Linked DNA regions of Homo sapiens. The protein of the gene in region 2 purifies or fractionates together with the protein of the main gene of each other region. This does not show direct contact. Each region holds a gene or a part of one and is shown on either strand. Other genes may lie near its edges.

What was found.
Region 1: the proteins of IMPA2 (region 2) and ARL3 fractionate together in Homo sapiens (co-fractionation; one large-scale study listed by BioGRID). This does not show direct contact.
Region 3: the proteins of IMPA2 (region 2) and SCPEP1 fractionate together in Homo sapiens (co-fractionation; one large-scale study listed by BioGRID). This does not show direct contact.
Region 4: the proteins of IMPA2 (region 2) and PLS3 purify together in Homo sapiens (affinity purification with mass spectrometry; one large-scale study listed by BioGRID and IntAct). This does not show direct contact.

Annotation. Positions count from the first base shown.
Region 1 is NC_000010.11:102,695,056-102,702,964, reverse strand, and holds part of ARL3 (ADP-ribosylation factor-like protein 3), read left to right. Parts: intron 1-3,475; coding exon 3,476-3,592; intron 3,593-7,909. UniProt on the Homo sapiens protein: Small GTP-binding protein which cycles between an inactive GDP-bound and an active GTP-bound form, and the rate of cycling is regulated by guanine nucleotide exchange factors (GEF) and GTPase-activating proteins (GAP).
Region 2 is NC_000018.10:12,026,356-12,033,200, reverse strand, and holds the end of IMPA2 (inositol monophosphatase 2), read right to left. Parts: intron 5,159-6,845; coding exon 5,050-5,158; intron 4,360-5,049; coding exon 4,208-4,359; intron 2,859-4,207; coding exon 2,743-2,858; 3' UTR 2,324-2,742; downstream 1-2,323. UniProt on the Homo sapiens protein: Phosphatase that can use myo-inositol monophosphates, myo-inositol 1,4-diphosphate, scyllo-inositol-1,4-diphosphate, glucose-1-phosphate, beta-glycerophosphate and 2'-AMP as substrates in vitro.
Region 3 is NC_000017.11:56,975,039-56,983,522, reverse strand, and holds the start of SCPEP1 (retinoid-inducible serine carboxypeptidase precursor), read right to left. Parts: upstream 5,393-8,484; 5' UTR 5,364-5,392; coding exon 5,288-5,363; intron 2,442-5,287; coding exon 2,293-2,441; intron 1-2,292. UniProt on the Homo sapiens protein: May be involved in vascular wall and kidney homeostasis.
Region 4 is NC_000023.11:115,647,949-115,655,545, reverse strand, and holds the end of PLS3 (plastin-3), read right to left. Parts: coding exon 7,529-7,597; intron 6,118-7,528; coding exon 5,985-6,117; 3' UTR 4,685-5,984; downstream 1-4,684. UniProt on the Homo sapiens protein: Actin-bundling protein.

The DNA.
Region 1 (7,909 bases), on a different chromosome or scaffold from region 2:
GCAAAACCAGAGTTATTTTCCATCACTGTACCGTGATAAGACCCTGGTGTCAGGTTTGAATGGCTGTGCTGGTGTGCATGCATACTTCACGGCCCATGAGTCTTACTGATTCACAACTCTTTATGGAAAAGTCATTTCAACTGCTACCAAATGAACAATTTTTACAGCTTCTGAACAAATTTAATGTATAGCCCAAGCAAATTACAGTAATCTAGCCTAGAAGGGCTGAAAACACATATTAGTGTGTCAAGATTTCTGCCAGAAAAAGAAGCACTAGTTTTTGTGTGCATGCGCTTGTGGGGTTTTTTTGTTTTTGTTTTTGTTTTTTTAGTATTAGCAATAAACTGTGTCTCTCAAGAACACTAACGTGAAGACTTCCACACTGCAAACACAGAAATAAACTCAAAGTTAGGAACCCAAAGTTCTCATTCTAACCTTCAGGCTTTGTTTGATGTGTTATAGGTAACTCTGATATTATATTGTGTCAAGGTTTCATATTCTTTAAAAACAAACTTTTATTATGTTTTTTGTTTTATATTAGAAAAAGTAATAAATGCTCATTGTAGTAAATTTAGGAAGTATAAATAAATACAATTGAGAAACTAAAAGTCACCTATAATGCCCAGTCAGACATACCACTGTTCACATTTAGGAATGTATCAAGTTTTTTTCTATGCATATATATGATGGGTATATTTAAAATAAAAAATAAAAATGGCTCATAGAGGATATACTAGCTTGTATCATCTATATCTAGATATAGATTTTTTTTAGAGACGGGGTTTCACTCTGTCGGCCAGGCTGGAGTACAGTGGCACCATCCATAGCTCACTGCAGCCTCAAATTCCTGGGTTCAAGCAATCTTCCCACCTCAGGCTCCTGAGTAGTTAGGACTGCAGGCATGTGCCACCACACCCAGCTAATTTTTTTTTTTTTTTTTTTTTGGTAGAGATGGGGTCTCACTACATTGCCCAGGCTGGCCTTGAACTCCTGGGCTCAAGCAGTCCTCCCGCCTCAGTCTCCCAAAATTGGGATTATGGGTGTGAGCCACTGAACCTGTCTCCTCTTGTTCACTTAATAATAGATCATGAACATCTTTCTATGTTATTATATATGTAAATACTTATGTAATATACATCTCTAAATGTTTTTGCCCATTCATCATTATTATTTCCTCAGAATAAATTCCTAGATTTGTTGGGTCTCATGACTTATAGCTGTTTAAGCCCATTGATACATATGGTCAAATTCCAAGATTCACTGTTACTTGTATTCCAAGATTTACTGTTATTTATTTTCTGCTTTATTCCAGAAAGGATTCAGTATTACTGAGTTTGACATTTAATATCATTGTTGAGTGTGGAATTTTTAAATACACTAAAGTAGTTTTGCCAGTGAGTCACAATGAAACTTTTTTCAATAAGCTTAAGCCATTTCCCTTTAGAATTCTCGAACTTCTAATGTATTCAGTCATTGGCGTGTTAGAGAAGTGAGAGTCAGCAGGATCCCCAGTTATCCTCCAGAGACTGTGTATCCGCAGTGGAAATTGGGTGGCAATATTCCTGTCCTATTGCACTGTGCCTTCTCCTTCTGTGCCAGGCAGCAGTGTTGACAGGCTACCACATGAAACAAATGTTTGTGGAGGCATCCCCAAAGCTATCTAACTCCAGTTATTCTGGATGAAATGTCTCTTCTGTGGTAGCAAGCTGTTGACTGGGTTTTTCAAATCCTGGTTTCCCTATGTAATTTTTGCAAGAAGACTTTAAAAAAAATTCTTGTTCATGCAATACATTCTCTGGGAACCCCAAAGGGCTTGTTAATTTGTTTCTTTCCACACTGACCCCCACCTGGCAATTCTGCCTGTCCCTGATTTGCTCACCTTCCTCAAAGTTTCACCTCAAGTAACTGTCTTAAAAATGAAGACTTCCAGCCCGGTGCAGTGGCTCACACCTGTAATCCCAGCACTTTGGGAGGCTGAGGCGGGCGGATCACCTGAGGTCGGGAGTTCAAGACCAGCCTGACCAACATGGAGAAACCCCATCTCTACTAAAAATACAAAATTAGCCAGGCATGGTGGCGCATGCCTGTAATCCCAGCTACTCGGGAGGCTGAGGCAGGATAATCGCTTGAATCCGGGAGGTGGAGGTTGCGGTGAGCCGAGAGCACAACTCTGCAAAAAAAAAAAAAAAAAAAAGACTTCCGGCTGGGCACAGTGGCGCATGCCTGTAATCCCAGTGCTTTGGAAGGCCAAGGTGGGCGGATCATGAGGTCAGGAGTTTGAGACCAGCCTGACCAATATGGTGAAACCCTGTCTCTACTAAAAATACAAAAAATTAGCCGGGTGTGGTGGCAGGCGCCTGTAATTCCAGCTACTCGGGAGGCTGAGGCAGGAGAATCACTCGAACTTGGGAGGCGGAGGTTGCAGTGAGCCAAGACCATGCCACTGCACTCCAGTCTGGGCAACAGAGCGAGACTCTGTCTCAAAAAAAAAATGAAGACTTCCTTTTCAAGTTCAAGTTCATCATAGTTCCCTATGAAAGCACTTTTTTTTTTTTTGAGATGGAATCTCACTCTGTCGCCCAGGCCAGAGTGCAGTGGCATGATCTCAGCTCACTGCAACCTCTGCCTCCAGGGTTCAAGTGATTCTCTTGCCTCGGCATCCTGAGTAGCTGGGACTCCAGGCATGCGCCAACACGCCTGGCTAATTTTTGTATTTTTAGTAGAGACGGTGTTTCACCATATTGACCAGGCTGATCTCGAACTCCTGACCTCCTGATCCATCCGCCTCGGCCTCCCAGAGTGCTGGGATTACAGGCGTGAGCTACGCACCCAGCCTGAAAGCACAATTTTAACTGACCACTTGTTTGTTTCCATCAGTGTCTGCAACTGAGGGCTCCACCTCCCTACTGGGCTGATATATTCGAGTTACAAACCCAGCCTCCCCCATAGCATCCTCAGTTCTGCTCTTTTTCCTGATTAATCCCTGTAGGAAATTTATTTTGAGCTGCTCTTGAAGAATCTAATCCTCTAGATTTGTAGCTTTTGCCTCTTTAAATTTAGCTTGTGTTCTTTCCTGTTGAGTCTTCAGATTCAGCTTTTTTTTTGTTGTTAGTTACATGAAATGTCCTGTTAAATTTTACCATCCTGAAGATTCATGGGCATGTGATGTGTGTTGGTTAATTAGAGCTATTCTCATTTGGAGTTATCCTCAGTAATTATATATGTATATATGTTCATTGTAGAAAAACATTGTGTTAGCCTGACATTATTAACACTGACTCCACAACCTGGATGAAACAAGCATGTATAAATATGTTTCTGTATTCTCTGTCACAACAAATCATTTTCAGCATTACCAGTATCACATATGGCAGAGTACTTTAGAATTAATAAAAAACATAGCTATTAAATGTAACTTTGTCAGAATTATGATCCCAAAGTTTAATAAAACTTGATGTTTTTGTCCCTGTTTCAGGGTTTCAACATCAAAAGTGTACAATCACAAGGTTTTAAACTGAATGTATGGGACATTGGTGGACAGAGGAAAATCAGACCATACTGGAAGAATTATTTTGAAAATACCGATATTCTTGTAAGTACTCCTTCTGACGCACTAATTCATAGTATTTTCTGCCATGTGTTAGAAACATGGACACTGTAACATTCTTTCTTGTCAGTAATTCCACCACCATAACATTAATCACTGTGAATTTAGCAGGGATAGCAGAAGGCTACAGATTATAAAGGAAAAACATCTTTGTATAACTTGTATAAGATGTTTTGCTGTCGCTCAGTAACAATGTTGTACCCACACCCATCTTGGCAAAATAAAGTGTTATTAATTGCCATAGTGATTTGAATAGCAGAAGGGAAGTCAGAAGATCATGCCACTGACTGTCACCCCTAGGAAGACAACGAATCAAGTGTATTGCAAAGAGAGCAAGCAAAATAGTGAAAGTACTGGAAACCATGATGTGTAAGGAGTGGTTGAAAGACCTGAGAATGTTATTCCTGGAAAAGAGAACACTGGGAACTGTCTAGGCTGCTTCAAGAATTATCTTAAGTCAGAGGGATTGAATAGTTCTAGAGGGCTGAGCCAAGAGCAAGATGGGGAATGTTAGGTGGTAGAATGTAATTCAGATTAAGGAAGAAGTTTCCTATAATTACAATCGTCCAGTAGTAGGAGAAGCTGCCTCGTGCATTGGGAATACCCTGACTCAGGGAGCGTTCATTCAAGTGGAGGCCGAGATTTTAGCTCCCAGCTCGCTGTCACTTCCTTTAGGACCATCACAGTTTCAGAATTCTTGGAGATTTCACTGTCCACTTACATGATTTCCACAAAACCTCAGCCTCTCAGTTCCTTCACCAGCCCTCCTTCAATGGTCTTGTCATCTACTCTACCTCAGCCACATACTTGCATAATCATACCCTAAAACTAGGGGGGCTCATGAACTTAGATGGGAGAAAAATTGCATGTCGCTTTTACTAACCTCTAACCAAAAGTTTGCGTTTACATCAATTATGATGAAAGGCAATAAACTGCAATAATAGCAGCCATATCTATGTCTTTATTACGAATAGAAATCATCTAGACCAGGTGTGGTGGCTCATGCCTGTAATCTCAGCAGTTTGGGGTGGCTGAGGTGGGAGGATCGCTTGAGCCCAGGAGGCGGAGGTTGCAGTGAGCCCAGATTGAGATCAGGCCACCACACTCCAGCCTGGAAGACAGAGTGATACTCTGTCTCAAGACAAGAAAAAAAAAAAGAAATCATCTTGCATCTCAAACAGCTTCACCTTCTGCTGTTGTTTCCTAAGTGTCTCTCTCCTCTGGATCATTCCCATCAACATAAACATATCCTGTAGCTTCTCTTGCTTAATGAAGAAAAAATAAGCCCCAGAAAACTCCTCCTGACCATACATCCCCCTCCAATACTGTCCCATTCCTCAGCCTCCCTTTATAGCAAAACTCCTTGAAAGAGTTTGTTATGCTCTCTGTCTTTGCTTTATCTCCTCCTAGTTACTCTTGAGCCTTCTTTTCAGGGTCACTGATAATTCCACATTGCTAAAAGTAGGGTTCAGTTTTCAGTACTCATCTCACTTGACCTATCAGGCCATTTAACATTGGTCATGCTCTCTTTGAAACATTGTCTTTTCTTGGCTTCCAAGACACCATTCTATCTTGGTTTTCCTCCTCACTGGCTACTCCTCCTAAATCTCCATTGCTATTTTTTTTTAATCTCCCAACCTCCAAATGTTAGAGAGCCCCGGAGTCCTTGTGTTTTTCTTCTCTGAGTCACTGCTTAGGTGACCTCGTCTAATTTGAAGGATTTAATGACCACTTAGATGCTTATGAATCTCAAACTATCATCTCTAGCCTGGAATTCTCCCCTGAACTTGAGTTTCATATACAGTCATGTGCCACATAATGACACTTGGGTCAGTGACTGACCTCATAAATGATAGTGGTCCCTTAAGATTATAATAGAGCTGCCGGGCGCAGCGGCTCACGCCTGTAATCCCAGCACTTTGGGAGGCCAAGGCAGGTGGATCACGAGGTCAGGAATTCAAGACTAGCCTGGCCAAGATGGTGAAACTGCATCTCTACTAAAAATATGAAAATTAGCTGGGCATGGTGGTGGATGCCTGTAATCCCAGCTACTCAGGAGGCTGAGGAAGAGAATTGCTTGAACCCAGGAGGTGGAGATTGCGGTGAGCCAAGATTGCGCCACTGCACTCCAGCCTGGGCAACACAGCGAGACTCTCTTTCTCAAAAAAAAAAAAAAATTATAATAAAGCTGAAAAATTTATATTACCTAGTGACATAGCTGTCATAACACATTACCTTTTATATGTTTAGATCCATAAATACTTACCATTGTTTTACAGTTGCCTGCAGTATTCGATACAGTAACTTCGTGTACAGGTTTGTAGCCTGGGGCAATAGGCTATGCCATACAGCCTAGGTGTGCAGTAGACCATCTAGGTGTGTGTAAGTACACTGTATGATGTTGGCACCATGTCAGAATTGCCTAATAATGCATTTCTCAGAACATGCCCCTGTCATTAAGCAACACATGACTATATAAGCCAGCTGCCTATTTGACATCTCCACTTCAGCGGCTGGTAAGTCCCTCAGCCTCAACATGTCTAAAACCAAATTCCTGTTTTCATCCTGTTCTACTCAACCCTACTCTTCCCACAGTCTTCTCAGTAAATGGGAGTCCCATTCCTCCGGAAACAATGCAATCATCCTTGGCTCCCTCTCCTCACTCCCCTCATCTGATCTATCAGCAGATTCTTTGTACCTATTGCCATCAGACGTATTTTTATTTATTAGCTTTCTCTTGCACTGTAAGGTAAGCTCCGTGAGGACAGGAATTTTTGCATTTTAAAAAACTGTTGGCCGGGTGCGGTGGCTCACGCCTGTAATCCCAGCACTTTGGGAGGCTGAGGCGGGTGGATCACAAGGTCAGGAGTTCAAGACCAGCCTGGCCAAGATGGTGAAACCCCATCTCTACTAAAAATACAAAAAATTAGCCAGGCGTGGTGGTGGGCGCCTGTAATCCCAGCTATTTGGGAGGCTGAGGCAGAGAATTGCTTGAATCAGGGAGGTGCAGGTTGCAGTGAGCCAAGATTGCGCCACTGCTCTCCAGCTTTGGCGACAGACCAAGACTCCGTCTCAAAAAAAAAAAAAAAATGTTGGCCAGGCTCTGTGGCTAACGCTTGTAATCCCAGCACTTTGGGAGGCCGAGGTGGGTGGATCACGAGGTCAGGAGATCGAGACCATCCTGGCTAACACGGTGAAACCCCGTCTCTACTAAAAAATACAAAAAAATAGCCGGGCATGGTGGCGGGCGCCTGTAGTCCTAGCTGCTCGGGAGGCTGAGGCAGGAGAATGGCATGAACCTGGGAGGCGGAGCTTGCAGTGAGCCAAGATTGCACCACTGCACTCCAGCCTGGGTGACAGAGTGAGACTCTGTCTGAATAAAAAATAAAATAAGGCCGGGCATGGTGGTCACTCCAGCCTGGGCAACAAGAGTGAGACTCTCTCTAAGATAAGATGAGATAAGATAAGGTGAGGTAAGATAAAATTCTTTTAATTCAGAAAAAAACAAAAAAATAAAAATAATTAAAAATATTTTAAATCAGGCCTGGTGCGATGGCTCATTCCTGTAATCCCAGCACTTTGGGAGGCCGAGGCAAGTGGATCACTTAAGGTCAGGAGTTCGAGACCAGCTTGACCAACATGGAGAAACCCCGTCTCTACTAAAAATACAAAATTAGCTGGGCGTGGCGGCACATGCCCGTAAGCTACTCAGGTGGAAAATCGCTTAAACCCGGAAGGTGGAGGTTGCGGTGAGCCAAGATCATGGCATTGCATTCCAGCCAGGGCAACAAGAGTCTCAAAACAAAAAACAAGTCTCAAAAACAAAAAAAAAATTTTAAATCAACAAGGAAACACTTAGAACTAATAAGTGATCATACCAAGGCTGCAGGATATAAGGTTAATATGTACAAGTCGGTTGCTTTCCTTTATATCAGCAGTGAACAATTGAAATTTGAAATTAATAGCAAAATACCATTTAGCACCCCCAAAATGAAACACTTAGGCATAAATCTAACAAAATACATTCAGGACCTACTTGAAGAAACCTGCAAAACTCATAAAGAAGATCTAGGTAAATAAAGAGACAGTCCGTGCTCATGGATAGGAAAACTCAGTATTATTAAGATGTCAGTTATACCCAACTTGATTTATAGATTTAATAGAATCCCAATCAAAATCACAGCAAGTTACTTTGGGGATATTGACAAACTGATTCTAATGTTTATATGGAAAAGCAAAAGATTTAGATGGCTAACATAGTACTGAAAAGGAACAAGTTAGAGGACTGACACTACCTGACAT
Region 2 (6,845 bases):
AATGAATGTCATCACCAGTGATAGATGAATATCATTTTGTAAGAGGTCTAAATGACATAGCAAGCAGTTTTGCTAACTCTGAGGATCACAGAGGTGAGCAGCCCATTTCGTTTCTGGGAGGCTTGTCCAGGGATGAATGAGGCAAGCCCGCAGGTCCCCACCTTGGGTGCCTCTCTTTTCTCCAAGGTTCACTCTGCTTCTCCTGAAGCCGCAGGGATGACGCTCATGCGGAATACTTGCTAAAGGCAGCCTGAGACTCCGGACAGAGCAGAAGCAGAAGCAGAAGCAGGAGTCAGCTCAAGCTCCCTCAGGGCCTCCTGCTGTCCTGACCCAAGGGCTGGGAGGGCCTTTCCTGAGGTTGGGGAGGGGAGCAGTTCTTTCTTTTTGTTTTTTTGTTTGTTTTGTTTGTTGAGACAGGGTCTCGCTCTGTCACCCAGGCTGGAGTGCAGTGGAACAATAATGGCTCACTGCAGCCTCGACCTCCTGGGTTCCAGCCATCCTCCTGCCTGAGCCTCCCAAGCAGCTAGGACTACAGGCACGCACCACCACACCTGGCTAATTAAAAACTTTTATTATAGAGACAGGGTCTCATTCTGTGGCTTAGGCTGGAAATGCAGTGGTGCAATCATAGCTCACTGTAACCTCAAACTCCTGGGCTCAAAGGATCCTCCCACTTCAACCTTCCAAGTAGCTGTGCACCACATCCATCTAGTTTTGGGTTTTTTTTTGTAGAGATGGGGTCTTGCTATGCTGCCCAGGCTGATCTGGAATGCCTGGCCTCAATCCTGCCTCAGCCTCTCAACGTGCTGCGAGAGTTATTTTGTTGAAGAAAACTTCCAGATATTATTTGACTAATAAGCACTACATCTCAAAATCCATGAGAATGTAAGAAATTTCTTGCACATCTGTATAAATACTCAGATCTGTTTTGAGTAGATTCTGAGAAAATTAAGATGGGCTAACGAAGGCCTAAAGGAATAATCAGCAATTTGGAGAAACATGAGCATATTTTAAACTCATTTAAAAAATCCAAACTATTTATTGAAAAGCTCTACTAAACAAAATTAGTTCAGACAAAGCAATAAGATGACGAATCAAGCTCTCTCCAGAGATGAAAGAAAAGCCAGTCTCAAAGATGACTATAACTAACGCTGTTGCTGGAAAGACAAGGGCACCGAGCCAGCCCTGGGAGAGGCTCCACTTCTTCAAAGACAAAACGATTCCAAACGTGGCAGGACACAGTGCTCACCCTACAGTGAACCTCTGGGAATATGTTATTTTTTAAATTCAGTTAATCTTTCTTCTTTTTTTTTTTGAGACAGAGTCTCCTGTCGCCCAGGCTGGAGTGCAGGGGTGCGATCTCAGCTCACTGCAACCTCCACCTCCCGGGTTCAAATGATTCTCGGGCCTCAGCCTCACAAGTAGCTGGAATTACAGGCATGCGCCACCATACCCAGCTAATTTTTGTATTTTTAGTAGAGATAGGGTTTCATTATGTTGTCCAGGCTGGTCTCAAACTCCTGGCCTCAAGTGATCCACCTGCCTCGGCTCCCCAAAGTGCTGGAATTACAGGCATGAGCCACCGCACCCAGCCAAGACTTTCTCATTCTTAAACTTCAGGAAAGATGTCTGGCCAGCCAGTTAATAGCCTCATTAGAATTATTCTTACATACCATTCCGCCTCCTAAAGAGAAACAAGTAAGGCCCAGTTTCTCCTCTTTAAACTGATCACAGATTGGCCAGGTGTGGTGATTCAATCCCAGCACTTTGGAAGGCTGAGGTGAGAGGATCACTTGAGTCCAGGAGTTTGAGACCAGCCTGGGCAACACAGTGAGACCCCATCTCTACCAAAAAATTTTTAAAAATTAGCCTGGCATGCTAGTGCATGCCTGTGGTCCCAACTCAGAAGGCTAAGGCAGGAAGATCACTTGAGTCCTGAGGTCAAGGCTACAGTGAGCTGTGATCACACCACTGCACTCCAGGCTGGGAGACAGAGCAAGACCCCAACTCAAACAAAAACAAAAAAGCTGATCACAGAAACAACAGCTTTCAGAGATTAGTTTCCTTCTGTCTGTCCCATGTCTTGGCTTCTGAACACTCACATGATATTACTGGGGTCGCCTTCAGGGTATTCATCAGAGGCAGCAGCTGGCACACACTGGACTTTGGGTTTCATTCGCATGGACTTTGGGTTTCATTCGCATGGACTTTGGGTTTCATTCGCAAAGCTTCCTGAGAGCATAGATCCACAGCAGTGGATGAGAGCCACAGAGTTGTTTGGGAATCAGGCGACATGCTTATAGAGGAAACAGATACACACAGGGCCATTATTTTGATTTATTGCATTCTGAAGTACTCCGGGGGGAGGGCCTGAGAACGATCCGCTTTATCAGCAGTTCTAAAGCCTTATTACCTGAGATTTATATTCTGGGGGGAAAAATCAAGATTGGATTATCAATACGTATTTCACAGGAGATTTGAGTTTTGGCCCTGACAGAAGAACACGTACTAACCTGAAAAAGGCTACGTGAGATTAAAGAGAGAAACAGCTAAACACCAAATCCTGGTGAGAGAGACGTCGATTTAAAAGGCCAGCCACTCACTGTAGCGTGACAACTCCCTCTGGGGTAGCCAGGAGCAGAGCGTGAGCCACTGGCATGGAGCGTGGGCCACGAGGGCCACCTCCCCAGGAGCCCACAGCAGCCCAGGGAGGCCTTGGGAGCAGCTTTGCCTCAGCCGCAGTCACTTCTCATCATCCCGCCCATAGTTAATCGTCTGTAAGGCCTGAGCTATGAGCATCGCCATCTCCCGGGTGCTGGCCGCAACCACTCTGCAAGCCATGAGGTCGAGGGGTCCACCTGGGGACAGACAGAGAGAGCCAGGCATCCGGGTTACCAGAGAGGGCTGAACAATGTTGTGTAACAACTTATCCCACATGCACACAGCACAGGAAATGGCACATGGAACCGTGCCCAAGCCCCAACACTCGTATTAAACAGGTGGTCTAGGAGTGAATTCGGCAAAGAATAGAGGGATGGAGCCTCTCCCGCCCCACCCCAGTGTGAATGCAGTCAAGGGCTGCACAGAACAGAGTGCGGCTCTGAAGCTGCCACTGCCTTAAGAGATGGAGAACATAAAAGTCCTAAGAAATGCAAGCAATGGGCTAGACCCGAACAGGGGAGCTGCCCTTCTCAAGCTTGACTGTGCACAGGGGTCAGCCAGGGGCTTGTGAAACCAAGGCTCTGCCTCAACAGGTCTGGGTGGGGCTGAGGCTACCTGCCCACAAGCTCCTGGGGGTGCACCGCTGCTGCGGGACCCACACTCGAAGAAGCTCGGGCAAGATGATAAAGCCTTGCATCTTCCTGAGGGATATGAAACAGCTCTGGATGCATGGGCTGGAGACCTGCTTGCACATACGTGAGCCTTCAGGTGCTCTAGTGGTAAAATCAGAGTGATGGGGGCTTTAAAATATGGAATGGAGGCCGGGCATGGTGGCTCAGGCCTGTAATCCCAGCACTTTGGGAGGCCGAGGCGAGTGGATCACCTGAGGTCAGGAGTTCGAGACCAGCCTGACCAACATGGCAAAACCCCATCTCTACTAAAAATACAAAATTAGCTGGGCATGGTGGTGAGTGCCTTTAGTCCCAGCTATTCGGGAGGCCAAGGCAGGAGAATTGCTTGAACCTGGAAGGCGGAGGTTGCAGTGAGCCGAGATCATGCCATTGCACTCCAGCCTGGGTGACGAGTGAAACTCCGTGTCAAAAAAAAAAGAAAAAATGTGGAATGGGGTCGGGCATAGTGGCTCATGCCTGTAATTCCAGCACTTTGGGAGACCGAGGCAGGCGGATCACGAGGTCAGGAGATCAAGAGCATCCTGGCTGACACCATGAAACCCCGTCTCTAATAAAAATACAAAAAATTAGCCAGGCATGGTAGCACGCACCTGTAATCACAGCTACTCAGGAGGCTGAGGCAGGAGAATTGCTTGAACCCGTGAGTAGGATGGTTGCAGTGAGCCGAGATTGTACCACTGCACTCCATCCTGTGTGACACCAAGACCCCGTCTCAAAAAAAAAAAAAAAAAAAAAAAAACAGAAACTCTGGGGAAGGTGGGAAATTCAGTTGGTGGGGACTTCAGGAAGTGCCCCACCCACAGTGTCTCTCAGTCTAGTTTCTGCCGCTGCATTTCAGGGACAGGAGAGCTCACCCGAAGTGTCTATCACGATGCCGCCTGCTTCTCTGATGATGACTGTGGCAGCCGCCAGATCCCAGCAGTGCAGGCCAAACTGGTAATAGGCATCCGCGGCCCCTGAGGCCAGGTGGCAGAGTGCCAATGTGGAGCTTCCAATCACTCGGACCCTGGGGAGAGGGAAGGGAGGACAGATGCAGGCGGGAGTGGAGCCTTTTCTGTGGTGTGCAAGCCGACTTCAGCCAGGTACCCCGGCTGGGCATTTTCCCTAGTGAAAAATGAAGCACAGCACTTCTGCCAAAGCTCTGGAGGCTGAATATAGGGCCTGGAGCCACCAACCAACAGGCCTCCGCCAGACGCAAATGCCTTGTGCCATGACAGCTCCCAGCTGACCTAGCTACTGAGCACCTGAGATGCAGCAACCAGAGAATTGAATCCTCCTCTACTGAACGTGACATTAAGTGTCAGTGGTCTCACATGGCTAGGGCTCACAGCACAGCCCTACTGGGAAGGCAAGAGACAAAGAGGATTCACTGGGCTTTGATAAACCTGTCTGACGCCAGGCCCCCTCGGGAAGGACTGTAAGTATTTGCACCATTCGCTGGTTGAGCAGCATGAGGTCAGTTCCATGGATTCTGATCAGAAGCAACACAGGTGCCCACGCATCTCCAGAGGCCTGGCTATAGGAGTATCTACTGCAGGCGGGCCCCTCACAGGGCTTCCCTGAGTCTGATGTTCATGTGCCCCTCCCACTCTTTCCACGTCAGGCTTCCTCCTCAAATCCCAGGGGAGTTTTAGCAAGTCCGTGTTCCGTTCTTCCTCCTCGGGCTGCAGGGTGTTCCCCGAACTGAACCTCCTACCCATGCGCCTTGGCATGCAGCAGCCGCTCCATGTTACTCAGGAACAGCTTCAGGGTCGCAGGGTCACGTTTGGGGCCAATTTCTGTCAGAACCAAGGCCTTTGAGAGATCTGCAATAAAAAGAATTTCCTGTCACCAGAAAAATCAAGTCTTGGTTCTAACTAAGGAGTACAGGCTTCCAACGTGAGCCTTTCTTTCTCAGAGTAAGGATCATCTTTCGACTGGTTCATGCTGAATGCTTTTTTGATATCTATGTTGAAAACTAAGGATGGACCGGGCACAGTGGATCGTGCCTGTAATGCCAGCACTTTGGGAGGCTAGGGAACAAGGATCACCTGAGGCCATGAGTTCCAGACCAGCCTGGGCAAGATGGTGAGACTCCATCTCTGCAAAAAAAAAAAAAATTAAAAGTAGCTGGGCATGGTGGCACAGGCCTGTAGTTGCAGCTACTCAGGAGGCTGAGGTGGGAGGATTGGTTGAGCCCAGGGGTTCAAGGCTGCTGTCAGCCATGATTGCGCCACCACATTCCAGCCTGGAGGACAGAGCAAGTCCCTGTTTCTTTAAAAAAAAAAAAAAAAAAAAAAATCACCATCATTCAACCAAAAAGAAAAGCAAAATGACTCCAAACTGGGAACACTCAATGTTTGGAGGGAAAAAATGCTTCATTAATCGTCTAACTGCTGCAATCGCAACGATAGAAATACCATTTTCTTGGAGAAAGCAACTTTTAAATAATGCTGCTTTGGAAAGGGAAGCTGCAGGAGTGAGCCCTCTGGATGCAGGGGGGTGCCGACACCTGGAATTCATGGCCTGCCGTTTATGTAACAGCAGGCGAGGCTGCCAGGGCTGGCAAGCCTGGCTCAGGGCAGGACGTGACCGGGATTCTGCTCCTGTCCCTGACTCACTGCTGGGGATCAGAGCAGTTTGTCCTTGTTGTGCCACACACCCAAACACAGCCAAACTTCGGTCATGTCCCGTCAGGCCTCACTGCCCGGGCAGGACAGTGCCAAACCAGGTGTGCTCCATGACAAAATAAAGCCACTCCCAAAGTCGGGGGAAACAAATCCTATCACATTACTGCACTCAATGGACCCAGTTCTGTGTCACCACTTTCAAATTCTCCGCTCACCCAGGAAATCTCTCAGCCAGAATCCAGGTCCAAGTGTCCCTTTTCTTCCATGGAAACTCTCATTTTACACCTTAAAGCACTTTCTGCAAAACACCTGGCTCCACACCAAAGCAACCTGCCTGCCCTCAGGAGGTCCAGATCATTCACCGCCGGCCATGCCCAGCACTGAAGCTGAGCTATGAGGGCACTCCTGCCCTGGGACTGGCAGCAGGCCCTCCACAGATACCACCTGAGCCCTGCAGCTGCCACCCACAGCTGGGACAAAAGGCGGCTGTTCCAGGTGCTCCCTAATCCACACAGGATCTGCAGACAGGCTCCAGCAACCCTTCCATTCCTTACCCTCCAAACCCCACCCTCACCTGGCCACAAACAGATGGTATTTTTTCCGGGGTGGGGGTGGGGAAGGCTTCCATTAAAGAAAGAGACATCAGCAGACCCAGGCTGAGTGGGCACTCGATAAACAGTTACTGAATGAATGAGTGCTTTCCCTCAAATGCCAGCGCTCAAGAAGGTAGGATTGGAGTCTTTGTTTTGATTTGGTTCATTAAATTACTAGTATTTTAATTTATGGGAGAAATGTTTGAGGCAGAATTTTGTTGGCTAATCTAAGAATCTAAATACTATATACAATACTGATTTTGGGGGTAAACTAATTCTGAATTACGAAT
Region 3 (8,484 bases), on a different chromosome or scaffold from region 2:
ACACTGCCACTTAGAATCATGAACTACGAAAAATGATGTGGCAACATTGAAAAATATTTATAATGCAATATGCAATAAATTAAAGCCAGGGATCTACCCTCCAATGAAAGCTGGGTTCCTTTTTCCTAATGGACTTATTAGGATGAGGTAGGATCAAAGCAAAAGGAGAAAAGCTGGAAATCCTAGGGGTTGGGTCTTTGTGGGAGAAATCTCAGTTCTCCTCTGCTTCTGGTATGCCAGGGAGACAGCAGAAGATGACCTCTCCCTCTCCTCTCTCCTCATTCCCCTCTCCTCAAAAGGCAATGAGATGCTGGATGGAGGAAGCCTCTGTTCTACGTGAATATATCCTATTGTAAAACCTCTTTTTTGTCTAGAACTTTGGGATAGGGTGCTAGCATGGCCCAGGGCTATCCAGAAACTCTGAGACACAGTCAGTGTGTCAGTGGACCAAGTGAAACGCTTCGAAGACTTGAAAGTGTCCCTAACATAGTTTGCTAACCCACTCAGAAGACATGACTTCGATTCTCAAAGATTCCCCCGAGAGAAGTCAGCACCATGTCCTCAGTAGGCTGCTAAAATAGATCTCCTTTTCATCTAAATTAGTTATTTCTTCTGTAAGCATAATCTTTCTTCTTCTCTCTTGGGTCTCTGGGTAAGTGAAGAGCAATTTATTCTCTTCAGTTGATAAACTTCAAAGGAGAAGCCTCAGCCTCAGCACTTGTGCTTTTGTCTGCTTTGTCTCCCCTTTGTAAGCTTTCATTTGGGGGTAAAAAAAAAAAAGAAAAGTTCTGCTGATGAACAAAAAGTTTGAAAACCACCAAAATCTCCCAGATTAGACAGCCAAGGCCCAGAGGAGGAAGTATCTTGCCATGGCTCTAAGTGGCAGGTAGGCACTGAAAACCCGAGGCCCCTGACGGCAGGCCTGAGCTTGTCCACGGCCTGGCTCTCCCTGCCAATTGTGCCGCACCTTTGTCTCCAGCCACCGGAGGTGAACAGGGCTCCCCAGGCTGACATACAAGGGTTCTTTTTCTGCATTATCATAACCGCACCTGGGGCTGAGCCTCAGCTCTAGCCCTCAGAGGTGGCACAAGTGATAATTCCAAAAGAGAAAGGCCCCTCCCTGAAAACTGCTCATTTTCGCTCTATCTCACCAGAAAGTCTGCATCGACCATCCTGGGAGGCAAAACCCAGGTGGTGGGAGGCTGCTTATAAATACCAGCATTGTTGGAAGACGTCCCAGTAGCATCCTATGGAGGTGAGCACCAGGGTCCCTATTTACTGATGAGGGGCCCAGGGTTCCAGCTGGGCCATGCCTACATTTTCCAGAGGCAAGACCATGTTCCTTAATTCCTCCCTGGTGGGTGGTCTTCCGGGTGGGGGTGGGCCATCTCTGGACAGATATTTCAGAAATGCCAGAAAAGAGCCTCTGCCTGTCCCTACAAATCTTTCAACCAGCTCCCTGCCTTCCATCCTACAATCAGAGCTCAAGGTTAAAATGCAAACACACTCAGGGAAAGGGGGAAGGCGCAACAGTCACACGAAGGTGCAGAAGGCTTGTAGCAGTCCCTTCAAAAGATCAGGTTTTCTGGGGGTAAGAAGTTAGGGTTCAGGAAAGGATTGTATGGAGAGGAAGGGAGGGTCAGGCTACCTCAGGTCTTTGCTTTGGAACCTTCCATAACACTTTCTTTTCTTTTTTCTTTTGAGATAGGGTCTTGCTCTGTCGCCCAGGCTGGAGCGCAGTGGCACGATCTCAGCTCACTGCTACCTCCGCCTCCCGGGTCCAAGCAATTCTCATGCCTCAACCATCTGAGTAGCTGGGATTATAGGTATGTGCTACCATGCCTGGATAATTTTTGTATTAAATATTTTTAGTAGAGACAGCGTTTCACTATGTCGGCCAGCCTGGTCTCGAACTCCTGGCCTCGTATGATCCACCCACCTCGGCCTCCCAAAGTTCTGGGATTACAGACATGAGCCACTGTGCCCGGCCTCAAAACACTTTCTATCACTATGTATTCAAATGTATCATCAGGAGTTTTCAGTGAGCCTTCTTGTGACCGTCTGGAAATATAAAGAGACTCTGGCAAAAGGCTAGAACCCCCTCGCCCTCTGATTTAGCCTCCTTGGCTATACCATTGCCTCAGCCTACCTCAGAAGCACGCCGAACCCCCAGGTCACACTGCTGGACCAAATCCGCCCTTCACTGCTGAGACATCAGCCCAAAAAGCAAGCAAAGAGCCACACAGAGGAGACTTGGCTTTGACCTCAGGCCAGGCTGGGAAGCTACTTTACCTGAAGCCACATGACCAGGGGCAGTTCTGAGAAGTTCTTGCAGGAGTTGGTGGCATAATAGAGCCACCAGAACATGTAGGCATCCTTGCGGACCGTCACATAATCCCATACTTCCTTGCCCTCCTCTGTGGGCCAGTCAATGACAGCTCCTGAAACAGAAGTTCAATTTCACTCTCCAGAAGAGTGCCTAATGTACAGGTAAATTCCAAGCCTGGTAGAGACAGCCATGCTAGGCTAGAGATGATTTGTTTTATAGTTTGGTAATTTAGCCACCCCAGTACATTGCAGGAATAAGGAAAAAACCTCGGCTATGAAAAAAGAAACCAAACTTAACAGCGGCATAGGAGGCCAGGGGCTTTCACTTTTTCCTCTACACTTTTCTGTAATGTTTGGATTTTTAACAATAAATATGAAACACTTTTTTTTTTTTTTTTTTTTTTTTGATACGAAGTCTCGCTCTTGTTGCCCAGGCTGGAATGCAATGGCGCAATCTCGGCTCACCGCAACCTCTGCCTTCCGGGTTCAAGCGATTCTCCTGCCTCAGCCTTCCAAGTAGCTAGGATTACAGGCATGCACCACCACGCCTGGCTAATTTTGTATTTTTAGTAGAGATGGGGTTTCTCCATGTTGGTCAGGCTGGTCTCGCACTCCTGACCTCAGGTGATCTGCCCGCCTAGGCCTACCAAAGTGCTGGGATTACAGGAAATACTTTTATAATTCTGTAAAAACAAGAGAGATTTATATTTTGAGTAAAAAAGTAAAAATCTCAGAATGCAATATACTGGTTTTTATATCGTATTTAATACATGAGTAAGACACCAGGCTTGGTGGCTCACTCCTGTAATCCCAACACTTTGGAAGGCCAAGACAGGCTGATAGCTTGTGCATAGGAGTTCAAAACCAGTCTAAGCAACATAGCAACACCCCATCTCTACAAAAAATGCAAAAATTAGCTGGGCATTGTGGCATATGCCTGTGGTCCCAGCTACTCAGGAGACAGAGGTAGGAGAATCGCTTGAGCCCAGTAGGTTGAGGCTGCAGTGAGCTGTGATCACACCAGTGCACTCCAGCCTAGGTGACAGAGGGAGATCCTATCTCAAAAAAACAAAAAACCAACCAACCAAACAAACAAAAAACATGAGTGAAGAGGCATCACAAATTAGTGGGGCTGAGAATATTCAATATACAGTAATGGAGCAACAATTACCTTTTTTGGAGAAAAAAAGAGAAATTTAGGTCCTCTCAACACTATAAACGAAATAAGTTCCATGAGGATCAAGCAATTAAATTTTAAACTTTAAACATTAAAAAAATACAAAAATATAGTTAAATATATTTCTAATGTCTGGATGAGGAAAGAATCTAAGCAAACCCCAGAGACTGTACAAAAGAAACAATGATGGAGGTGAGAACAGAAACTTGTTATATTTCTATACAACAAAATTTCTGTAAATCAAAAATAAAAAGGCAAACAGCAAGGAAAGAGCTACAACAAATATGAAAAAGGGCAATTTTCCTAACTCATGTAGATGATTTTTTTAAACTGAACGATATATATCTGTGTATGTGTGTTTAATATACGTATCCTATAATCCCCTAACTCCAATTTTCCTTACTTAACTTTTCTAGCATCCACAAAATATGTTTTAGAAAAGAGTAGGCTAAATACATTTTCTTTGTCACTTTTTGCTAACGTAACAATTTCCAAGTTATAGCATCTTTTTTTTTTTCCTCCAAAACCACTCTGGGAAAAAAAAAAGTAGAGGGGCTGTTGTTAAAAGATGATGGGGGGGATCCCCTCGGTGACTGGAGTTTTCTGCCTTCTATTTCCTCCCTTCTCAAATTTCAAGCCCCATTGGTCAGTAAAAGAACACTGGTCCCAACAGCTAAAGAGACAGGAGTAGAGAGGAAGACAATGAGACAACGTCTTGTAAATAAGAAAGAGCCAGGGTGGTGGCCTGTGTCTGCAGTCCGGGCTACTTGGGATGCTGAAGTAGGAAGATCACTTGAGTCAGGCAGTTCCAGACCAGCCTGGGCAACATAGTGAGACCCTGACTCAAAACAAAACAACAATGAAGATTAAGAAAACCAGAAAGTGTCCTGAGGAGCAAAACAGATGACTAAAACATTACAGACTTAGCTATAAGGTTCTATATACAAGTAACACACGATTATATTGTCCTTGACAATAACAGATAAGGCTGCGCTCCCTTGAGAATGACAGATAAGGCGCAGGTACCTTTTGACCTAACCCCAGGCACTTCTCCCTTGCCTGGCAGTGACTACTGGTAAAATTGGCAGAGCTACTTATTTTACAAAATCTCCCAGACACTCGCCTAAGGGCCAGATGATCCCCATTTTAGAAAAGGAAAACAAAACTGTTCAACAACTTGCCTAAGGTCACAAGGCAAGCTTGTGGCCAGTTCCAATTCTCAGTGCTTGCTTCAGACTAGGAGAGGTTTTGCTGAAAATCAATTTGCAAGTCATCCTATTAAACACAAATCTGTTTTTTGCCAAAAAAGATCGCTGTGGGGGAAGATGTTATCTTGTTTGTTTTGATCAAGAAAAGAAAGGGCCTTATCTCAATGAAATGTCCCATTCGTGGTAGGATGTAAGGGTACTTTTGACCGCAGATTTCAGCTTAAAATAAAACGACCTTATATCCTCATTTAGCAGCCAATCATGGCCTTTGAATCGGGGAAACCTCATTGACCAGCAGTTTCCCCAAATCATACATTTCTGCACACAGCTTCTATCTAGGCGTAGGAGAGAACGGAAGCACTCAGACCACCCAGAGCCAGAAAAGGACAAAAAAAGCACTTTGAATTTTTTAAGGAAAAAAAAAAAAAAGAGTGAGATTCAAAAGCAATATAATTACACAAGGTAAGAACCGGGGAAAAGAGACATGTTTTCAAAAGCACAAACCCAGTAACAAACTCTCACGCCTGGAGAAAAAAGAGGCATGGCAGCTGGTGCGCCTCTTGCTTGAACCTACCTGCGTTCAGGCCCAGCAGCAGCGGCAGCAGCAGCAACCACCGCGGGACGGGAGAGCGCCGCAGTGCCAGCTCCATGACAAGTACCGCACGGCAGCATCAGCAACAGGCTGGACCCGGCGCCCCATCACGTGACGGAGGCGGACGGGGCGGGTCGGGGGCGGGGCCTGCGGGTCGGGGGCGGGGCCTGAATGGGCATGGGGCGGGGCCTGGGCGGACCCGGCAGCTTGCTGAGACCCGCACGCCCTCTGCCCGGCAAGCCCACCAGGACCCCTGCAAATGCGCAGGGGCCGTTCTGTCCGCCTGGCCAGGTTCTCTGTCATTTTAGGGAGAGTATTTCGGAAAGGAGACATTTGATGCAGATGTTGGATTTAGGTTGTGTGACCGGATCGAAATACTAAAGGGAATAACCACCGCCCTTTCTACCCCTCCCATCTCTTCCTTCCCTCAGCAAAAGAACCGACGTTTTCCAACACTGCTACATCTGCGAAGTCAGATTAAGCCAGCTGGTCGTTGGCAAACAGCGGGGTTTCATTTTCAGATATGTATTTTTTAAATTATTTTTCTTTTAAAGTTATGTATGTTATAAACGTTTTGGAAATATGAACAAAAAAGTTATACATAACTATTGTTGGCATTTTTTCCCATAGTCTTTTACGTCATTTTAAAAAACACTAATAAAGATTTTTATTTTTTTTTTCTTTTTTGATAATTTGTCATTAGTATTACTCTGTGTTACGTTATCTTCACAGCAGTCATTTTAAAGAGAGAATCGAGGGTCTGGGGACGGGAAAGGAAGAAAAAGTGGATGACAGAGCTGTTTTCCTCTGTGTGTGTGTGTGTGTGTGTGTGTGTGTCTGTCTGTCTGTCTGAAGGTCATTTTTACGTTAGAGGGTACTGAATAACTCACCTCACAGCTAGGAGACAAGCTACAGCAGGGGCTGTAGGAGAGGCTACTTCTAAATACTGCTTCAAAAGTACATGTAACAAAAAGCAAAAAACAAATCAAAGTACATGTGGCCACTTCTCCTCTTTCCCTGCTCCTTTCTCCCTCCCCTCGCCCTTGACCCCCATAAATGGAAGTGCTTTTTACTCTGCAGCCATTGTCTGGACAGAGCCTTGACCCCGCCCTGCCTGTGAGGTGCCCCTGCACTGAAAGCTGCGGCAGAGAAAAATATGCCGCCGGGTTCTGTCATGCTTTAAGCATGGGATGGTCCCGAATGCATAAAATCCATAATGCCTGGGCAACATATTGAGACCCCCTCTCTACAAAAAATAACAAAAATTAACTGATGTGGTGACACGCGCCTGCTGTCCAAGCTACTCAGAAGGCTGAGGTGGGAGGATCACTTGAGCCCAGGAGCTCCAGGCTGCAGTGAGCAGGTGTTCCATGCCATATGGGAGATACATAAAAGTACATGCTTAGTTAAAAATAAATAACTATCTAGCAAACTTTTCCTGTCTGAAGCTTCCAAGTTGGTCTGTATCACTAGGGCTTGAAATACACTTACCCTTCCACTGCAGTCAGAATTTTAGGGTTTCAATTTTTTTGCCACAAAAATAACACTACAGCCCAGGGCGCAAGGTGGCTCACACCTGTAATCCCAGCACTTTGGGAGGCCGAGGTGGGCAGATTACTTGAGGTCGGGGGTTTGAGACCAGCCTGGCCAACATAGTGAAACCCCATTTCTACAAAAATACAAAAATTAGCTGGGTGTGGTGGCACTTGCTTGTGGTCTTAACTACTCGGGAGGCTAAGGCATGAGAATCGCTTGAACCCAGGAGGTGGAGGTTGCAGTGAGCCAAGATGGTGCCACTGCACTCCAGCCTGGGTGACAGAGTAAGACCCCATCTCACACACGCACAAAAAAATTGTGCATTTTATAATACGCTAATATGACTTCAAAAGGAAAAAATATAAATAAAATGTCACCTCTAGTTAATGATATTCATATTAAAGTGTTTAGGGGAAGGTGTACCAATGTATACAATTTTCTTTGAAATGTATCCAGATGCTGGCACAGTGACCTATGCCTGTAATCCAGCTCTTTGGGAGACCAAGGTGGGATGATTGATTGAGCCTAGAAGTTTGAGACCAGCCTGGACAATATAGTGAGACCATGTCTCTTAAAAAAAAAAAAAGTATCCAGAATATAAGATGGATTGATGGATAGGATGGAAAGAAGGTTGGATACATGGATAAATACATGATATCAAGTATTACAGTAACATTTTCTTTTTTCATTACAGTTTATAATCACAGGAACAAAATAAACAAAAACCACATGTAGAAACCAGATTAAAGCTTGTTATCCTTACAGGCAGTGGCGAAATTCCAATCTTCAGGGTTGGAGTGGTCTTTGTTTAAGAAAAATACCTCCTTGGTTCATTGAAGTTAGGAGTTGGGAGCTGATGGCATAGTAGCTGCAGCCAAGGCAACAAAAGATAATTGCCAAACTGTGCGGCCCAGGAGAAATTTTGTTTTGCTCCTAGGAGAGGAAAGAAGAGAGAAAGATGAAAAGAAGTGAAGGCTACATATAGAGAAAGATTAGCCAAAGAGAGTTGAGGCTGGAAGAAGAGCCAGTAGAAATTTCTCCGATGAGGAGTGGCTATGTAATCCCCCAATGGGTTCTTTTTGCCTGCTGCCCAGATAGAGCCAGCCAATTTATGAAGGCAGGGGAATTGCAATGGGGAAACAGTTTAATTCATGCAGAGCTGGCTGAAAGGAAGACTGGAGTTTTATAATTACTCAAATCAGTCTCTGAGGAGTAGTTTCAAAGACAGTTTAGGGGTAGGAGCAGAGGTGGCTAGGCAATGGATGCTTGCTGCTGATTGGTTGGGTTGGAGATGAAATCACAGGGAGTTGAAGCTGTCTTCTTGCGCGGATTTGCTTCCAGGTGGGGCCGCAGGAGCAGTTGGTAGGTCCAGGTGGAGCCAGGTGTCAGACATGCAAAAAAACCTGAAAAGATATCTCAAAAGGCTAATCTTAGGTTCTACAATAGTGATGGTGTCTGCAGGAGTAATTGGAGAAGTTGCATATTTTGTGACCTCAGGAATAATGGCTGGCAATCCTTAGCAGAATTCAGCCTCCTCTATTTTCTTAGCCTGGTGGTCATTTAGCGTAAAGTTTGGGGAAGGGCCATTATCATTTAACCTATAACCTAAATGCCTCCCAAAGTTAGCTTGGCCCAGAAGTCCA
Region 4 (7,597 bases), on a different chromosome or scaffold from region 2:
GGGAGTTTTCCAAAGAGAAAGGAAACTATAACCTAAGGATGCTGAGACCCCAGGAAGAAAGAAAGAAAAATAGAATGGTTATGACAGAGGTAAATATAATAAACTAAGCTTCTCTTCATGCTTTTTAAAGGTACTATTTGAGAGTTGAAGCCAAATTTATATCATCTAACACGGTGCTCAATGTATGTAGAGAAACTGCTTAAAGCATTTATATTTATTTAACAGGTAGAGAGAGTCAAGTGATCTAAATGAAAGTGAGGTACTTCACTTGAGGTGCTAAAATCTTGCTTAGTAATAGACTGTGATATGGTACATATGTATATACTAACACCTAGAGCAAGTCCTTAAAAAATAAGACATATTTGGCCGGACGAGGTAGCTCATGCCTGTAATCCCAGCACTTTGCAAGGCTAAGGCAGGAAGATTGCTTGAGCCCAGGAGTTAGAGACCAGCGTGGGCAACATGTCAAAACCTCGTTTCTACCAAAACAAACAAACAACAACAGCAACAAAACTAATTAGCTGAATGTGGTGGCATGAGCCTGTAGTCCTAGCTACTCGGGAGGCTGAGCGGGGAGGATCACTTGAGCTCGGGAGGAGGTTGAGACTGCAGTGGTGCCGTGATAGTGCCACTGCTCTCCAGCCTGGATGACAGAGCAAGACTGTCTCAAAAAATAAAAATAAAAAGAGAACTATATTCAAGAACACTATTGACATATCAAAATGGAATTTTAAAAAACGTTCAAGTGACTCATCAAAAGATAAGAGGCAGGGAACAGAAGGACAAAAAGTGGAGCAAGCAAACATAAACTAAATAATAAAATGGCACACTTATGCCTTAACATATCAATAATTACTTTCAAAGTAAATAATGTCTAACTATTAATAATTAAGGCCGGGTGCAGTGGCTAACAGCCGGGCATGGTGGCTCACACCTGTAATCTCAGCACTTTGGGAGGCTGGGGTCAGGAGTTCGAGACCAGCCTGCCCAACATGGTGAAACCCCATCTCTACTAAAAATACAAAAATTACCTGAGCGTGGTGGGCTGAGGCAGGAAAATCGCTTGAAGCTGGGAGGCGGAGGTTGCAGTCAGCCGAGATTACACCACTTCACTCCAGACTGGGCAACAGAGGAGACTCCATCTCAAAAAAAAAAAAAAAAAAAAAAAAAAGGAATGGCCGGGTGCAGTGGCTCATGCCTGTGAAATCCCAGCACTTTGGGAGGCTGAGGCGGGTGGACCACCTGAGGTCAGGAGTTCGAGACCAGCCTGGCCAACATGGTAAAACCCCATCTCCACTAAAAATACAAAATTAGCCGGGCATGGTGGCACATGCCTGTAATCTCAGCTACTCAGGAGGCTGAGGTGGGAGAATCACTTGAACCCAGGAGGCGGAGGTTGCAGTGAGCTGAGCTCGCGCCACTGCACTCCAGTCTGGGCGACAAGAGTAAAACTCCATCTCAAAACAAACAAACAAGCAAAAAATTAAAACACAGATAAAAACACATGACCCAACGATATGCAATCTACATGAAACTCACTTCAAGCATAATGAATGCAGCTCGAAAATAAAAGAATAGAAAATGACAATTATGTAAACATTAAAAAGCAGGAATGGCTAGGCTATATTAATATCACATAAAGTAGAATACAGAGCAAAGAAAATTACTGGGGACTAGGAGTGACATTATGTAATCAGAAAAAGATCAATTAGCTAAAAAGAAATGGTGACCCTAAATGTGTAAGCACCAAACAACACAGTCTCAAAATACATAAAAACTGAGCAGGGTGTGGCCGGACATGGTGGCTCATGCCTATAATCCCAGCACTTTGGGAGTCCAAGGCTGGTGGATCACCTGAGGTCAGGAGTTCGAGACCAGCCTGGCCAACATGGTGAAATTCTGTATCTACTAAAAATAGAAAAAAAAAAAATTAGCAGGGAGTGGTGGTGGGCACCTGTAATCACAGCTACTGAGAAGGCTGAGGCAGGAGAATTGCTTGAACCCGGAAAAGGCGGTTGCCGCAAGCCAACGCCATTGCACTCCAGCCTGGGCAACACAGTGAGACTCTGTCTCAACAACAACAACAAAAAACAAAATAAAACTGATATGGCTGAAAGGAGAAATAGATAATTCTGTATGGGTAGTTTATTGAGGTTAGTGGCTTTTTACGGTTGTCTTGGACAGATGCTACAACAACAACAACAAAAAAAGAGCAGAACACATTCAAAGAAAGCAGAAAGATGGAAATCATAAAGATAAAACCATACATCAATAAAATAGAAAAACAAAAACAAAGAAACAAAAAGCTAGTTCTTAAAAAAAGTAATGAAATTGATAAACTTCTAGCAAGACTGACAAAGGTTAAAAAGAGAGAAGACATAAATCACCACTGTGAGGAATCAAACTGAAGATATCATTACATATCCTGCAGCTATTAAAAAGATAATTAAGGAAATACTACGAAAACTTTATGGTCACAAATTCAGCAACATGGAAGAAGTGAACAAATTCCTCAAAATTCAAAAGCCACCCAAAACGCAATCAAGATTAAATAGATAATCTGAATAGCCCCATAACCATTAAAGAAATATCTCCAGGTTTGGACACTTTTACTGGAGACTTGCACCAAACATTTAAATAAAAATTAACGTCATTCTGAGCTTAGATGCAAAAATCCTCAATAAAATATTAGCAAATAAAATTCAACAATGAATAAGAATTATACACTGACCAAGTGGGATTTATTCAGGCATGCAAGGTTTGTTTAATCTTTGGAAACTAATCAATGTAATCCACCGTATCAATAGGGTAAAGAAGAAAATTTTATGATGATATAAATTGATGCAGAAAAAGCATTTGATAAAATCTACCCACCCATTCATGACAAAAATTTAAAAAATCAATCTCTCAGCATATTAGGATAGAGGGGGAATATCATCTTTATTTTCTTTAAGAGATGGAGTCTTGCAGCCCAGTTTAGGATGCAATGGTTCTATCACAACTCACTGCAGCCTTGATCAACTGAACTAAGTGATTCTCCTGCCTAAGCTTCCCAAGTAGCTGAGACCACAGGTATGCACCACCATGCTCAGCTAATTTTTTTTTTTTTCGAGATGGAGTTTAGCTCTTTCACCCAGGCTGGAATGCAGTGGCGCAATCTCGGCTCACATCAACTTCTGCCCGCAGTGTTCAAGTGATTCTCCTGCCTAAGCCTCCCGAGTAGCTGGTGGGACACATTATGGTGTCCACCACCATGCCTGGCTAATTTTTGTATTTTTGTAGAGATGGGGTTTCACTATGTTGCCCAGGCTGGTCTCAAACTCCTCACCTCAGGTGATCCACCCACCTTGGTCTCCCAAAGTGTTGGGATTACAAGCTTGAGCCACCGCACCCAGCCTCATGCTTAGCTAACTTTATTATACAGACGGAGTCTCCCCGTGTTGTCCAGGCTGGTCTCAAACTCCTGGCCTCAAGAAATCCTCCTACTTCAGCCTCCCAAAGTGCTGAAGTTACAGGTGTGTGGGGAAAAGATGGGGGATTCACCATGTTGGTAGAGATGGGGATTCACCGTGTTGCCCAGGCTGATCTTGAGCTCCTGAGCTCAGGCAGTCCACCTGCCTCAGCCTTCCAAATTGCTGGGATTACAGTTATGAGCTACCACGCCCAGCAGAATTCTGAATGTGTTGCTAATTTTGGTCCACATTCTTATTTGTTGAAATTAGTTTTTGGAGGAAAAAAATTGTGTGTCAGGTCCACTGCTTTATATGAACACTTAACTATCCCATGGTACACTCCTACAGGCTGTGGGCCCTGTATAGTGAACCACCCAAGAAATCAGCTCCTTTTTTGAAGAAAGGGCCACATGTAATATATCTTTCCTATCTTGTTAAAGAGGCACTTCAAGGCGTTAGGGCTTACAGAGAAGAACCTTTGTACTTCGACGAAGATGAACGTGAATGAGTATGGCAGATTCAAGGCATAAGACAGGTCTTAAGATGTAATTGTCCTTACTTCATCAGTTACCCTAGTATGTTTGCAGATTTGTCTTTTTTTCACTCATAAATCCTATTTTTATATTAAAAGAATCTATAATCTGAGACTGAACTCACTTTTTTAGTTATCTATATTTTGATCTTTTTTATTATACATATATATTTGCAAAAGTAGAGTTGTCAAATATATCCTTTTTTAATTTTATGTCTTTGGAATTCAGGTGATATTTAAAAAGGCCTTTCCATCTCTCAGATTATAAATGCAAAGTATTATATAGTATCTCTATGTAACCAAATCCTCAGTAGACTACACCTTATATTACTCATTCACACAAAGGCTTAAATGGGCACTGATTGTCCACAAGGGATGATTTTGCCACCCAGGAGACATTTGGTTATGTCTGGAGACAATTTTGGTCAACACCACCGGGCATGTGCTGACATCTAGTGGGTAGAGGCCGGTAATACTGCTAAACCTCCTACAATGCACAGGGTAGCCCCTTCTCCCCACCCCAACAGAGTTATCCAGCCAAAAATGTCATATATGGATGAGATTGAGAAGATCTACTATGAACCATTTCTCCTCTGTGACTGTTCAGATCCCCACTGTTTCAGGATATGTATATCATAGAACATTGAAAAGACTGAGGGAGGTGGAAAAGAAAGAAAAAAGCAGGAACTGGATAAAGAAATTTTGGTAAATTGGAGAAAACCTTTTTACTTCATTTGTACTGTCCTTAATTCAGTACCTCTAATTCAGCTCCCAAAACTCAAATTTAACAAACACCATTTTACAGAATACATCAGAAAAACAAAAAGAAAAAAATCCTGACAAACATTGGCATACTTCCTAAGAGACAAAAGCATGAAGAACAGACTAATTATTATGTAAATGCCTTTATTTGAACTACTACATTGCTACCAGATTACATCACTTTTCAGAGTTAGAGTAACATAATACCTTGGAAACTATAGCAAACAGCTTGACAAAGCAAGAGTACATTAATTCCTACATATATACTTTTATTTTTAGTGACCACATTTCTTTGTTTCAGGTGTAAAATTAAAAAATATATTGTACACTTAGCATACTTGGCCTACCAAATCCCGTCTAAGTTCTGAGCACACTCTCTCCTCAAAAGTATCATATTCAACAGCATTTTAAATTTAGAGAGAGAGTTTGATGATACAGGTTTTAAAACAAATAAGCATGTATTGAACCAAGTGATTTAAGACAAAATATTTCAATTGTTTACAGCTTGGGTATGAGAGGGAAGATGCAAATTTAAGGTACATTTTTCTTCTAGCTACGATGTATGTTTTACTTACTTGAAGACCCCTTAAAAAAAGTAGCAAAATCAGCAGTCTTGTTTAATATAATCAAAATATTCTTAAATGTACAAAAAAGGATCATGTAGAAAGAATACTGTAAAAAGATACTGATCTTAAGAATAAAAGAATAAGAAAAGCTTCTATTACATTCTGCACAGCCAGTTACTTCGGCAAATTTTCAGTACTACAAAGATAAGCAAAGGATACTCATATCCAAATACGCTCTGACCATAGTTCTCGAATAAGAACTAGCATACTGGATGGAAAGCAAAATTACTGTCTAATAATATTCATATCCCATCATCTAAGCAAGTCCCAAGAGAGGGACATTCTAAGAGGGCAAAAGATAACAGAGCAAGAAATAACATACAGCAATGGGAAATGTCAAGGGCAGCATTCTAGGAGGAGAGAGTAAAATGTTTTGGCTATGAGCACATTTCAGGCGTGCCTGACAAATTCAACTCTGACTATGGGAAAGAGGAGTTGTTTTTCTTAAACCCTTTCCCCTGAGGGCTCTCATGATAAGCTAGTCCTGTTAATCAAAATGAAAAGTCCTTTGAATGGCCAAGAGTTCCTTAAGCCATAAGCACTTCACCTGGAAATAGCTGACCTGCGAATCATGCACCTGGGAGCATGGCTGTTTTATTCAGATTGGTTATTTTACACTCTCTTCATTCCCCTGCCCATCAAACATGCAAACACAGTCATGACCATCTTGGGCTTTACTTCCACAAGGTCTTCAGGGAGAGCATACACTCTGGCTCCGATTCTTCTAGCCATTGACACTGCATACCTATTTTAGGGGGAAACAAAATCAGGATGAAATTCTTGTCAGTTAAGGACACCACGTAAGACATCTATTTCCTCATATATAATTATTATGCTGGGATGCAAAAATTCCATATTGATAGTTCCAATTAGAACAGTTTTGCTTTTTGTTTTCTTTTGATTTGGGTTTTGATTTCACTTTGAAGTTACAGTAGGTTTTTAAGCTCTATTATTTGGGGCTAATAATATTTATTCACTCTTTTTCTCCAATGTGAGGTGAGAATTAAGCTTGAAGCACCAACTTTATATATATAATTACCTAGGCTGTCTATACAATCCATGTTAATATTCTCATTGCACACATAATAACACACACTCAAGTCATCTTAGAGATATGAGGTGGAAAATCATGCTAGATGCAAAACCCAAGTTGTTAGGCAGATGCAATGAATACTTCCAAGTATTCATGAGAGGGGAGACAGTCTACGTGGTACGTGGACAGAGTGGCTGGACCAAAAACTAGAAAAGGTAGACGAAGGGACAGAAGAACTGAGATGTCCAGGTAGGGAAATTTTCAGGAACACATCTCAACTAATCCGTGAAGTATTTCTAGGTGTGTTGGAACCAGAATCTTTAAAGATAATTAAATCATCGAGTTTCTAGAAAAAGAGATTTCAAGAGTTCTTGATATATTGTGGATATTAGACCTTTGTCATATCTGCTAGAAATATTTTTCAAGGAAAAAAGAAATAATGTGCCTAACTCCAAAGTTTTGCAGGAATGCTTCTTAGCTGTTCGGTAATGCAGGACTGTGGATGGATTTTCAATGTCTAACTAGTAAGGTTTTCATGGGTCACCCATGAAGCCAGGTCACACTCTAGGCCTTTGGTGAAGAAGAAAATAGGCTGGTGGAAAAGACCTTCTGAATATTGTTGAAATGCAAGAAACTTTCAAGGCATAGTCTTCTGTGGAGGGCTAGCAAGCATTCTGTTAATATGGGAACTGATGAAGATAAATTCAATAAATGTAGTAAGAATGATCTATGTATAGTAAAAGAGACATAAGTGGATAATGCGTTTTTTAAAAAAAGAATGAGACAGACAGATGAACACCCTAAGCTCTTATTTTCCTTGTAAAGTTTTACCTGATTTGCATTAAAATACATGCTACATTATTTCTGTAATCCACTGAAGCAACAACCGACTAAGCACCTAGTAGGCCAAGCACAAGGCTAGGCTCTTATAATTTTTAAAAATTTAATCTTTATAAAATCTAAGGTAAGTATTATTGCCCCCAGTTTATTGATGAGGAATCTGAGGCTCCAAGAGGTTTCTCCCAAGGTGACACCACTCTTAAATGGCAGAACCTGAATTAGAATTCAGATCTGTCCAGCTACAAAGCTGCGTTCTTTTCATACTATTAGCAGTCTCCCTTACTTGGCATTATTGTGCTTGTCATCTTCTGTTAGATTGCCACTCTTCACAAGGTCATAGTTTATACAGCCT